Linked DNA regions of Homo sapiens: region 2 is linked to region 1. The links come from fine-mapping of genetic effects on gene expression. A gene starts in region 1. The other region holds a variant in brackets. All regions are shown on one strand. Distances are from middle to middle.

The links. PIP is the estimated chance that this variant, and not a neighbour inherited with it, causes the effect.
Region 2: its variant is fine-mapped to the expression of NPL in whole blood (TOPMed, PIP above 0.99).

The regions. Positions count from the first base shown.
Region 1 is chr1:182,787,979-182,790,900 of GRCh38, reverse strand. It overlaps NPL (N-acetylneuraminate pyruvate lyase), which reads right to left and starts at 1,128. Exons shown (of 13, transcript NM_030769.3): 1 at 1,096-1,128. RefSeq lists an enhancer at 975-1,475.
Region 2 is chr1:183,155,262-183,158,183 of GRCh38, reverse strand. No RefSeq gene overlaps it. Among named protein-coding and RNA genes, the nearest start is that of LAMC1-AS1, 15 kb to the right of the region's middle. The variant T/C (reference allele first, on the strand shown) is at 1,777.

The sequences.
Region 1 (2,922 bases):
GAGGCCGAGGTGGGCGGATCACCTGAGGTCAGGAGTTCGAGACCAGCCTGGCCAACATGGCCAAACCCCGTCTCTACTAAAAATACAAAATTAGCCGGGCGTGGTGGCGGGAGCCTGTAGTCCCAGCTACTCGGGAGGCTGAGGCAGGAGAATGGCGTGAACCTGGGAGGTGGAGCTTGCAGTGAGCCGAGATAGCGCCACTGCAGTCCGGCCTGGGCGACAAGAGCGAGACTCCGTCTCAAAAACAACAACAACAACAACAACAACAACAACAACAACAACAACAAAAGACTTTAACAGAGAATGATCAGTATTTTTAAGATTCAAGTTTTTAATAAACTTGGGAATGTTATGCTTTGAAGCATAACAGATAATTATCATTATTTTTAAGATTCAAGTTTTAGATAAACTTGGGAATGTTATGCTTTGAAGTTTTCAGAGCTCGTAGCTAAAGCGAATAGCTCAAATGTTCTCCAGCCTAAGGCTTAATGTGAATTTAGATTATTACTGAAACATTGGGAGGGGGTATTACTCTTGAAATCTTATACCTCCATCCACAGATAAGAACACTCAGTGCAAAGAATTAAAGCTGCCTAAGTCAAATTCTTTTTTAAATGGCAAAGTTGTTTTTTTAAGAGACAGAAAGTGAGGGCAGAATGTACCTCTGGGCAGAGAATATCTTGAGGGACAGGTACTCGGAGAAGAGGAGATACAAATAGGGATTTTTAAAAAAGCAGAAAACCACCAATTTCTCCTCAAGTGAAGGGGGGATGTATCAGGTTTAACTTTAAGCTCTCTTCTGCTCAATTGCTAACTCTATTTTGAGGAAAGGACCTTTGGAGACCCGGCAGATATGCTGTCTGCAAACAATCCGGGGGAGTAAGTTCTTCTGCCCCCGTCTGTCCCTACACTTTTCGCATTCACACCTTCCCCAGATCCGTTTCCCAGCGTATCTGCCTTCCCTCTTTCCTCCGGGTCCGTCAACGTCTCACCCACCCGCGAGTCAGGCCCCAGCGCCCCTCCGCCCGAACGCCCAGGTCGTCGGGCCGTCTGCGTCCGTCTGTCCTAGCCCGTGCCGTCGCGGGCCGCGCTCACCCAGGCCTCCGCTCTTGTCCGTGCAGCCGCTCCGCCCGGCAGCCGCCGCCGCGCTTTATATCCGCGGCCGCCCGGCTCGGGCCCACGTGCCGCCACGCCAGGGAGCCTGGGGGTTGTAGTTCTGCGCCGCCGCCCGCGAGGCGCGCCCGGAACCGCTGGCCCGGAAACCCCGAAACGTTTTGCACACTGGAGTCTGCTCTTCCCCGGGTGTCACCTGAACAACATGGGCTGAAGTGACTCCGGCGCAGCGCCCCGGCTCCCCGAGGATCGGAAGCATCCGAACTGGCGGCCGGGTGCCCGAGAGCACGCGGCTCACCCGCGCCACGCCGAGTGCAAACCTCCCCCTGCCTCGTCTGCACGCCAGTCCTTCCCGCGTGCGGGCACCTCCTGGGCTCCGCTGCGTCTTAATTTTCCTTCTCTTGCGCAGGGCTCTGCAATCCCCACTATCTCGTGGTTCTGCGTTGTGAGGTTTGGGCTGCTGTTTCCGAGGCGTACGGAGAATCCCAACTGCCCATCGGCGTTCAGGTCTCTTCGGGTTGACGCCGCTGCACCAGCCCTGCAGACTCTCGTGTTAAAGAGAGATGAGCGAATTTTAAAGTGAATTATCTACTCATACGGGAGCTTTCCTGGCTTCTTTTGGAGAACATTTGAAAGAGTTTTGAAAGGGAAAATTATTTTTAACCCAACCGCCTCTACTTTCAGGAGTATCAGGAGTCTTATTCTAGGATCATGTACTGTGTGAATAAATCAGGAACAGAGCCAGAGACAAGTCCTCAGTTTTCTCTTGCTGATGTGATTCCACCTCAATTTTCCATAAAAGGCGATGGCTGATGCTTATTATTACATTTAGAGAAACTAAATTGTTCAAAGGGCTTTCTAGTTTGCAAAGTGCTTTTAAATGTATTCTAATAGTTCTTTCGTTGCACAGAGCACCAGAGATAATAGCTAATAAGTACTGTGTTCAGTGCTTACTCAGCCTGCACCGTTCTAGCTGTTTTAACATTTAATTCATAAAATAATCCCATTGGTGGGTCCTGTTTTATAAATGTATATATTACAGATGAGCAAGGATCATTCCATTTTACAGATCAGAAACAGGTTTAAAGAGTTGAAGTAATTTGCCAAAAGCCATAGAGCTGGTTAAGCTGTGGTTTGATTTCAAGTAGTCCAGAAGCTTGTGCTTTTAACACTATGTTATCCTACAGGAAAAAAAAATACAAAAAGAAAAGAAAAAGAAAAACCCTTAGTTACATGAAGCAAGTTCTCCTAAGGCTGCAGCATGGTTTTTGTTTTGGTTTGGTTTTTGTAATATTAACAAGAATATTATATCCTAATGGTACAATGAAAGTTTTTTTTTTTTTTGGAAAGTCACAGTTTAATAAGTGCAAAATTAAGTATGTCAGTACCCAAAAGGTATAGGTCATTAGGCTTAACATTGTCAACCAACAAACCAATATTCTAAATGCATGAACTAACTACTTTTTGTATAAATATGGTAGTGCAAAGTAATTCCTTATAATAATTTGTTAGTGTCTACCAAGAAGCAGATGCTAAGATGGGATTAGATGTGCAAGAAACTTACTGGGGGAGGGATTTGGAGCAGACAGGAGCAGCCTGCAGACTGATGTAGGGCTGACATCTGTGGAACAAAAGATGGAAGAAAGGAGCATGGAGTAGGGAGAGTCTCACTGCATTCTTACAGTATCCACTCTGTGCCGTTATGAAACTCAGAGCCTATACTGTGAAGTGTTGGGGAGACGTTGTTTTAAAATATGGTAAATGCAGTGATAGACTGTACAGAGATATTACAGGAACACTGAGCTCTAA
Region 2 (2,922 bases), 370 kb before region 1:
GGGTTTCACCATGTTGGCCAGGCTGGTCTCAAACTCCTGACCTCAGGTGATCCACCTGCCCTGGCCTCCCAAAGTGCTGGGATTACAGGCATGAGCCACTGTGCCTGGCCGTCACTGGTTTTATGAGAACAACATCACATTACAAGAGTGGCCAACATGATCAGCCAAAAACTAGAACATGGACAATGAGCATAGGGAGCATGAGTTCTCTCTGGGAATACAGACCACAGGGCTTGGTCTCCAGGACATCAATACACAGAGAGGAATGGATGAGAGGAAAACCAGAAAAACTCAACTTCTCAGTGGCATATCACTGAATCTCTGTCCATGCATTTTCATATCTGGATCAATGTCCCCAAGCTCATTTTCTAGATTATATTCTCTCCAACACAGCTAAAAATATACCCTTTCATACAAATACAATTTGTCCTTGAAAGACTTCTCATAATGAACAGTCTTGAACATTCATTATATACACATTGATTAGATAGACATAAATATAGATATATTTCCCTGTGCATTTTTAAATTAACATGCTCATGTATTTCTATTTTATGAAAATACATTTTCCTCTATTTTTGGTATACAGTAGTCTCCACTTATCCATGGGCTTGCTTTCTGTGGTTTCAGTTAACTTGCAGACAATCATGCTACAAAAATATTACATGGAAAATTCCAGAAGTAAATAATTCATTTTAAGTTGTGTGTTGTTCTGAGTAGCGTGATAAAATCTCGTGCCATCCTGCTTCGTCCCACCCAGTACATGCATCATCCCCTCGTATAGTATACCCACATCGTATATGCTACCCTGCCCCTTTGTCACGAAGTAGCCATCTCAGCAAATTGCAAATATAGTATATAATAGTGTTTGGTACTATCTATGGTTTCAGGCATCCACTGTGGGTCTTGGAACATATCCCTTGTGGATAAGGGGGTGACTACTCTACTGTTTTTCATGTTTTATTTTTTGCTGCCTTCTTGTCTTGTTTCATGAAATAGAAAAAAATTGTCTTTGTCACAGTGTAAAACCCATAGGTACCAGTAGGGTAGGCTACAAGAGCCATAGGTGTTCCAAAAGTATTTGTTGATAATGCATTTTTAAAAAGCAATCATCTATAGGGAAAGAAAAGGCCATGTCCCCTAAAGCCAATTAGTCTAATGAGCTATTTGCTTAACATTTCAGCATCACTTTTGAGAGTTTTACATCCATTTGAGCAACCTATTTTTTGTTATTTTTGTTGCTCTTGGTCAATGGCATTTTGAGAATTAAAGAAACCTATGTTTGCTTCTTGTCGAAACAGCTGATTCCAGGACTAAGGCAAGGAAGGTACAAGATTAGCCTGAAATGTCTTGATATACCGAAAGTAAAACAACACTCAAAGAATGACGGGGATGTATCAGAGGATCACAGGAGCCAGTCTAAAGATACTCCCAGCAGGCGGAGATTGCAGTGAGCTGAGATCGCACCACTGCACTCCAGCCTGGGCGACAGAGCGAGACTCTGTCTCAAAAAAAAAAAAAAAAAAAAAAAAAAAAAAAAAAAAAAAAAAAAAAAAAAGATACTCCCAGCAAAAGGAAATAATTAGCAGATTGAAGAGACAACCTACAGAATGGGAGGAAAACTTTGAAAAATATGCATCTGACAAGGGGTTAATATTCAGAAATTACAAGGAACTCAAACAACTCAATACCAAAAAAGCAAATATGGCTGACCCTTAAACAATGCAGGAGTTAGGGGTGCTGACCCCCATGCAGCCAAAAATTTGCATTTAACTT[T/C]TGACTCCCTCCAAACTTAACTACTAATAGCCTACTATTGACTGAAATCCTGAATGATAACATAAACAGTGAATTAACACATTTTGTATGTTACATATCCTCTATGATTACAATAGAGTACGCTAGAGAAAAATAAAACATTATTAAGAAAATCCTAAGGAAGAAAAAGCACATTTATAATACTGTACTGTATTTATGAATACCATAAATTTACATAATCTGTTTATAAGATGAATCATCTATCTGAAATGGTAGCAACTACAGCTGCAGACTTCGATCTACAGTACATGTCAAGCAATTCAACTTTCTCTTGTAACATCATGACTTTTCTTTGCTTCTTGGGAGCACTTCCAGTATCATTAGTGGCAGTTCATATGGGTCCAATGGCATTATTTAAGGTTTATGGTATTACACTAAACATGATGACAAAGATGTGGGAAGTGCAAGAGATCACTTTTTTCTGTGATACACAATTTACTGAAGAGATGAACAGTTCATGTGGAGATGATTAGTGTCATAGGGTGTTTTAAGCAGACACTCACAACACTTGTGCTCACAGCAAGAGCAACAGGAGGTGGCAATAAAATTATTACAGTAGTACAGTATGTACTGGGGTAAATTTTATGCAGTTATGATTTAATACTGCATCTTTATGTTTGTTTATGCTTCTCTTGACTGTAAATGGCACCACATACAGCCTGTGTTTGTGCGTGTAAATTGAAATAAATTTTAACTTGTTTTTGTTTTTGTTTGAGATGGAGTCTCACTCTGTCGCCTAGGCTAGAGTGCAGTGGCGCAATCTCTGCTCACTGCAACTTGCAACCTCTGGGTTCAAGCAATTCTCCTCCCTCAGCCTCCCGAGTAGCTGGGATTACAGGTGCCTGCCACTGCACCCGGTTAATTTTTGTATTTTTAGTAGAAACAGTGTTTCACCATCTTGGCCAGGCTGGTCTGGAACTCCTGACCTCGTGATCCACCTGCCTTGGCCTCCCAAAGTGCTGGGATTAGAGGCGTGAGCCACCACGCCCGGCCAACTTTTTTTTCTTTTTCTTTGAGACGGAGTTTTTGCTCTTGTTGTCCAGGCTGGAGTGCAGTGGTATGATCTTGGCTCACTGCAACCCCTGCCTCCTGGGTTCAAGCGATTCT